Homo sapiens: one gene and its partner. The protein of the gene in region 1 interacts with the protein of each later gene in a pairwise test. Each region holds a gene or a part of one and is shown in the gene's direction. Other genes may lie near its edges.

Region 1 (3,817 bases):
TCTTCCTGTTCATCTCCCAACCACTGCACTCTTGATTTTTATACCACACAGAAGGTAAGAAAATTCTAGGAACCCTAAGGATCAATCCTCTCCATTTTCACTCAAATGCCTGGGGCCCAGCTCTGCAATGACTGACTCCAGGGCCTCTTTCCTCACTGCCAGCATAGAAGTCAGGGGAGCCAGCTGGGCCCTGCGGTCAGGAAGGTTCTCATTTTTGGAGCATACCCTGAGCCCAGATCATAGGAGCAGCTGTCCCTGGTGGGACACAGGAGTCATGACTCCTACCCTCCACCCTCCACACCCACCAGGCATTTAGCAGTCTGTCCTATGCAAGACAGATGAATTCTCAGCCAGGATACCTCAAGGCAGGCAAAGGTGAGTGGAGGGAGAATTCACAAACATTCAGGGTGTGTGGTGCTGGCATCACCATGGCCAAATCCAAGAGGTCTTCCTGGAAGAGGGCCCAAACTGGAACCAAAAGAATGCTGTCAGCAGTTGGAATAGAGCTGTGAATTCTAGACAGGGGGAGTGTCCCCAGAACAAGCAAACGGAGGAGACAAGAGGGCAAGGGTTATAGGAAAGACCCTGGGCCTGAGAGCACAAGCAGCGGCCAGAGCTGCAGCGCTGGGGTGGGTGATGGAGGGAATGATTCGCAAGCAGTGTTGGAACCCAGCCCCTAGTGAGCAAAGTGACAGAAGCTGCCCCAGAGTTTGGAAGGAAGATCGAGGCAGAAGATGTAGAAGGAAGCTGTGGGGGTGGGAGTGATGCCTCAGGAACAAAACTGAGGAATTCCCTAACGGACCCAGTCCCTGGGGAAAGAGGCTCCCCTCAGGCTCTCCTTGTCTAGCCCCACACCTGGCAGAGCCTGTCACCCAGCCTAGCCCCACGCCTGGCAGAGCCCATCACCCAGCCTAGCCCCACACCTGGTGGAGAGGCCCTGTTGATTACACCCTGTCAGCCTCCTCAAACCCAGCACTAATTGCACAATTTTCCTCTCTTCTAGTGAGCAAGAGCCTGAGGAAGTAGCAGAGAGGGGTGTGGGCCCATGTGCAGTTCTGGGACCCTGGCACCTTGGCTCAGGGAAGACCCGAGCTCCTTTCACTGCAGACCCTCTCCAGAGACTGGGGAGAGGGCTCTGGAGAACCTGGTTCTTGCTTACTGTTCTCCCTTTGGGCCCTCCTTCCCAAACGCAAACAATCCAGGATCCACTCAGCGTCAGGCCCAATGGAAATAGTGAAGCAGTGATTTTCCCTCCCCTGCCTCTCCATAGCCTGGTCTTTTGCCCTCTCCTTTGCTCTTCTCTTCCCCCATAGCCACCTCAAATACCTGCAGCCTGATATCTTCATCCCTTCATCCAGACCTTTTCTCTCCTAGTGGTATTGCAAACTGAAAGTGGACAAAGACTTAAGGTAAACCTGCTCCTCATGGTGGAATGCTTCCAAATGCTGGAAGGAGGACTTTAGGGCAGAGTTCACTAAGGAGGCTTGTGCTTATAGATCAGTGGGCCTGAAAGAAGTTTCTCTAGGTTCTGGTTGTGTGCTGTACGAGGTGTAGGTAGTAATAATACTCTTGTCAGCCACAGTGAAGCCCCAAGCTAGCCGGGATAGGGGACTGACCTTGTACAGGCAGCATGGAGAAACTAAGACAGAGTGTCCTGCCCAAGTGATGGCACTGGGGAGCAGTCACTCAGGTTTATTTCCACCAGGGCCCAAGAAAAAAAGAAATGAGGCAACCTAAAATTCCATCAAGATAGATACCAATATCCAAGGTGCTTGGTCTTAGCGGTGTGGGACCCACGTTAAGGCTCTTGGTGGGAAGGTGGGAGGTGTTTTCAGCATGAGATAGGGTTCAGGCTGTGAATCAGAGTCTAGAGCCTAAGATAAAAGAAGATACCAGGGCTGGGCCACGGTGGCTTTCGCCTGTAATCCTAGCACTTTGGGAGGCCAAGGCAGGCAGACTGCCTGAGCTCAGGAGTTCGAGACTAGCCTGAGCAACACGGTGAAACCCTGTCTCTACTAAAATACAAAAAAGTAGCCAGGTGTGGCGGCATGCACCTGTAGTCCCAGCTACTCGAGAGGCTGAGGCAGGAGAATTGCTTGAACCCGGGAGGCGGAGGTTGCAGTGAGTGGAGATCGCGCCACTGCACTCTAGCCTGGGTGACAGAGCGAGACTCCTTCTCCAAAAAAAAAGAAAAGAAGATACCAGAACTCAGTCCTTAAGAAACAAAATTCTGCCAGGCGCAGTAGCTCACACCTGTAATCCCAGCACTTTGGAGGGGCCAAGGCAGGCGGATCGCTTGAGGCCAAGAGTTCAAGAACAGCCTGGGCAACATGATGAAACCCTGTCTCTACCAAAAATACTAAAAATTAGCCAGTCTCACAACCTGGTCTCAAAATAAATAAATAGATTTAAAAAAAAAATCATGGGCCTGAACCAAGCTCCAGACCTCACTAGGAGGGGAGAAGGACCCCCCAGCCACACAGCCCAAGGCTGCAGAAGCACCTAGGTGGTTAGAGAGTGAGTGCCTGGATGGGGCGCAGTGGCTCACACCTGTAATCCCAGCACTTTGGGAGGCCGAGGCAGGCGGATCACGAGGTCAAGAGATCAAGACCATCCTGGCCAACATGGTGACACCGTGTCTCTACTAAAAATACAAAAATAAGCTGGGCATGGTGGTGCGTGCCTGTAGTCCCATCTACTCGGGAGGCTGAAGCAGGAGAATCACTTGAACCTGGGAGGCAAAGGTTGCAGTGAGCTGAGATCGCGCCACTGCACTCCAGCCTGGCAACAGAGCGAGACAAGACTCCATCTCAAAAAAAAAAGTGAGTGCCCGATGATGCCAGATTCTTCATCACCTGAAGTGAACCCACACAACAGGGCTGGGCCATGGGCATCATAAACCCCATTTTGCAAGCTCAGGAGGAGCTTTAGGGAAATCAGAAGACTGGCCCAGTCTCTACCAAGTGGTGGATTTAGAGCCGGCATGGCTTCGTTCCAAATCTCACCCTTGTCCCACCATTCCATGGGACCTCCCATTCCTGAGGGAGCCTGGATACGGGCAAGTGCACAACCCGGGAGGTTGAGGTTACAGTGAGCCATGATCGCACCACTGCAGTCCAGCCCGAGCAATAGGGTGAGACCCTCCCTCTGAAAAAAATAAAAATACTCATTTTGGAAGGAAGTCATTCTAAAATGTTACACTTGTCTTCAGCATATCTGCAATATAATAATTTTCTGCATAACTGAGGATCATTCACAGAAACCAATGGCTTTTCTCCAGCAGTGTCTTCTGAAGTTGTAACAGTAGGGGCACGGGGAGCTATTTGCTTTTATGCTAAATGACCTTAGACCACTTATAAAATGCATATGAGTGCTTTAAATGTTATTTTGTGTGTGTGTGGTGTTGCCTCCCTGACTACAAGGGGTCACTTGCTACTCTAAATGTGTTTCTAATCTACTAGTACAGGAACACACATGGACACGTTAAAATTGTGAATAAAAGTAAGTAAAAAGTAAAAGTAAGTAGGCCATGACTGAGGACTGGAGAATCTACCCAGTGAGTAAAGCACAGGAGTATTTTAGCAGCTGAGGGGTCCTTTCTGCTCCCTCAAACCCTGCACTGTTGCCCTATAGCTGACCTCCAAATAAGTGAAGTGTCACTGCACATTGTTCCCAAGATTATTCTTTGCCTCTTCCATTGGAAGAGTCCACTGAGGATAGCAATATAGACTGTTCCCAATAATAGGAGACAGTTGGAATATTTAAGAGAAGGAAAGCTGCACAATGTAGAAATGAAAAATCCTTGGCACTGGAAAGA
Region 2 (3,817 bases), on another chromosome or scaffold:
TGAAACTCCCAGCGGCATTCTAGGGAGGAGGTGCATTCTGGTCCCCTCAAAGCAGAAGCCGTATGTTCCTCAGAAGCATCCATGCCCAGCCCATGTTGGGGGCCCTGGCTTTGCATGAGGGATGCTCACATGCCTGCTGGGTGGTAGAGTGAGGAGCTGTTTGTTCCAGCTCATGCCTCCCATGTTCTCTCACATGCTGGAGGGTACAGTCATCCTCCCGTTCCACTCCATTACTCCCCCGAGGAATGGCTCAAATCTGGCCCTGAGTCTGGTTTTTGCATTATTGTCCATGCTCCAGTGACCTGTATTCTGTTAACTTTGCAGCTGTTACAAGCCATCCCTGTTGGGGTCGGCCAGGTGTATGGCTGTGACAATCCCTGGACAGGCGGCGTGTTCCTGGTGGCTCTGTTCATCTCCTCGCCACTCATCTGCTTGCATGCAGCCATTGGCTCAATCGTGGGGCTGCTAGCAGGTAGGACAGAGCTCCCTCTCTTCAGGTCCTCAGGATAATTCACTCAAGGTCACTTTTCCCCTACATACAGCAAATCTTCCAGACATTCTCTTCCCTGCAGTTTTAAATACTTTCAGGGAGACAGGCACGGTGACTTATGCCTGTAATCCCAGCACTTTGGGAGGCCGAGGCACATAGATGACCTGAACTCAGGGTGAAAACCCATCTCTACTAAAGAAAAAAAAGTACAAAAATTAGCTGGGTGTGGTGGTGGGCACCCATAATCCCAGCTACTTGGGGAGCTGAGGCAGGAGAATCACTTGAACCCAGGAGGTGGAGGTTGCAATGAGCCAAGATCGTACCACCTCACTCCAGCCTGGGAAATAGAGTGAGACTCCGTCTTAAAAAAAAAAAAAATACATGTGGAGAGATGCAAGGGGGTAAGAACCAAGTTGGCCTGCAAACTGAGCCCCTGGAGCTGAGGATGCTGGAGAGACACAGGGGTAGGGGCGGGAGCAGTAACCAAGACCAACTGTGATAAAATAAATGGCCCAGCACTCTGAAATTTTTGGTAAGATACAAAGAAAATTGTTCTCAAACATTGGATTGCCACTTAACAAATGTGCTTTAATATTGCTACCTGTGTATATGTATGTATACACATTTAAATAGGTATTTGCTCTTTCTGACAACAGAGTCAGAGATTGGGGTAGGAGCATTGGGAGTAGGAACCTGTTTTAGACTTCTTCTAATATTTTTCAAAGATTTTTTTGGAAGCAAAACTTTAAAAAGTATTTTTTATTTGGAAATAGTTTTAAACTCATCAAAAAATGGTAAAAATAAAAATATGAGGCATCTGTAAATTCTTTCCCCAGATGTACCCACTGTTCACATCTTACTCCTTCTGCTGTATCATTCCTCTATCTACATATATCCATAAGTGTATAGGGATATTTTTCCAGAGCACTTGAAACAACTTTTAAAAATATTTGTTTAACTCTTCAAACCTTTTTGGAAACTTTCTTGCTAAGACTGCAGTTGCTGTAGTCAAAGCAGTAAGAAGGGGCCTAGAATCCCACCTCCTTGCCTCTTCTCACCCAGGAGGACCTCCAAGTGAAGCCTGTGGCTTTGACAACTGGTTTGGAAACCACTGTTCTCTTTTCATTGAAGGTCTCCTAAGACCGGATGCCATTTGTAGAGGCTCTTTTGATGGGCAGGTTTGGAGATGTGGGGTGAACAACAGCATGGAGGCCACTCTGAGACCTGGCACCAGTCCCAGGGTGGTCTTTGTTCTGTGGCCCAGAATCAGACAGAAATACCACACCTTGTCCCATAGCCCTGTCAGTGGCCACACCCTTCGAGACCATCTACACAGGCCTCTGGAGCTACAACTGCGTCCTCTCCTGCATCGCCATCGGAGGCATGTTCTATGCCCTCACCTGGCAGACTCACCTGCTGGCCCTCATCTGTGGTAGGTGTTCAGAAAAGCTGACAACCAGGTTATTCTGGCTATTCCTTCCCCCCTTGTTTATGTGAAACCCATGGGGACCACTAATCAATACTGTTCAGCAGTGACAGAAAGGCCAATGGCTTGCGTCCTAATGCCAGTGCTGCCCTTAACAGCTGGGGATTTCAGGTCCCTTTTCTGTCAAATGGGATCACAACCACCGAATGGTATTATACTTACACAGTGTTGTAAAGTTTATAAGGAAATCACATATGCATTTCCTTGTGTGCTAATGACAGCATTCCTGCTCTCTATAACTCTTCATTCAACAACTGTTTATACAACACCATCAAGTGCCAGGACCTAGTCTAGGTATAGAAGATACCATGGTGACTACATCCTCATGAAGCCACAGCCTAGCAGGAGAGAAGTAATTGCACAAATAATTACTAAGGCTGCAGCGTCCACAAAGGTTGTTGGAATGATCCAGTGAGGTGATGTACCAGGAGCACTAAAAATCATAACCACATTATGGAAGCTCGATTTCCATAAACAGAGAATATGCTGCCAGAAGGGAAATCAGCCATAGTCCTTCTCATACACCTGTATCCCAGCACCATACCCTGTTATATAAATATACAAACTCACTTAATCCCCCCAAGAATACCACCAGGCATAGCCTGCCTGGCCCATTTTACAGATGAGGAAATGAGGCTCAGAGGGGCTAATTAACTTGCCCTAGAAGATAGCTATTAATGGCAAAAGGGAGAGTCAATCCCAGCCCCAGCTTGCCACCAGCTCTCCTCTCCTGGTATTGTTCTCTGGAAGCAGGACAGGACATTAATAAATAAAACTAGAGTCAAGGAAACAGAAGACTAGCGTCTGGAACAGCTTCTCTTTTGTTTTTTCCCACTTATGCTTGGAGACTGAGAATGACTTCCATATCCCTTGTATCCCCTCAGCAGCCAACATGAGGCTGGGCATGGAGACAGTGGACCTAGTAAATATTTGTCAAGTTAAAAGTGCCTGTTATTTTGAGGTTCAGACCGTAACTGCTTTTGGCCTTCAGAGAAGTGGCAGATTCCTGTGGCTGGAATCATCTGGGAAGCCTACAGGGGGAGGCTAGGGTTTATCTCAACACTTCTAGTAGGATCTGAGTTGACAAAGAGAGAGGGAAGAGGTGTTCCGGACAGAGAAGGAGAAAGAGCAAAGCTGCAGGCAGAAGGAGTTTGTCCAGAGGCACCAGCTACATGGACGAGCTTTCCTGACTGTCCTCAGGACCCAGCTCCCATGGGGGAACCCAGCTGCCTGGCTCCTGGGGACTGGTTCAGGGGTCTAGTAAGGTTCAGCCCTGGTGAGACTTGGTGAACATCAAGCAGCATCACAGCTGCTCACAGTCTTGAATAGGAGGGACCTTGGCAGGAGCTCGTATAGTCTGACCACTCTTCCCCTACAACAATCATCCAGCCTGTACTAGCTCTTCGCTACCATCAGCGTAGACTAGCATATGATGTGTATTGACCCCTGACTCCATGCAAGGCCACTATGGAAGCAGGGAGGGGACAAAAGGAAATATATGTTTTAATCTCTGCCCGAAGAATGAACAGTCTGGTGGGAGACTGGCCTCACCTGTCTACAGAGATAACAAATGCCAGGCAAGCATGCCAGCTGTCAGGGCATGGTGCAGAATCTGAGGCTGCAGGAGAGAGGGTGGGGCTCCTGTTCTTGGTCTGGGCTCCCTGGTCTGCAATGGCAGTGGCTTAGGGGGAAGGCCCTGGGAAGCTCACTCTGGTGATCCTTGTTCCTCCACAGCCCTGTTCTGTGCATACATGGAAGCAGCCATCTCCAACATCATGTCAGTGGTAAGTGTGGATTCTCCTGAACACTACCCCAAAGTGCTCTTCCCAGAGCTTCTGGAC

What was found.
Region 2: the proteins of LRP10 (region 1) and SLC14A2 interact in binary tests that used the Homo sapiens proteins (3 or more experiments, as listed by UniProt).

Annotation. Positions count from the first base shown.
Region 1 is NC_000014.9:22,878,196-22,882,012, forward strand, and holds the end of LRP10 (low-density lipoprotein receptor-related protein 10 isoform 1 precursor), read left to right. Parts: 3' UTR 1-1,003; coding exon of another isoform or gene 1,004-1,006; 3' UTR 1,007-3,518; downstream 3,519-3,817. UniProt on the Homo sapiens protein: Probable receptor, which is involved in the internalization of lipophilic molecules and/or signal transduction. May be involved in the uptake of lipoprotein APOE in liver.
Region 2 is NC_000018.10:45,639,422-45,643,238, forward strand, and holds part of SLC14A2 (urea transporter 2), read left to right. Parts: intron 1-324; coding exon 325-472; intron 473-1,787; coding exon 1,788-1,922; intron 1,923-3,710; coding exon 3,711-3,760; intron 3,761-3,817.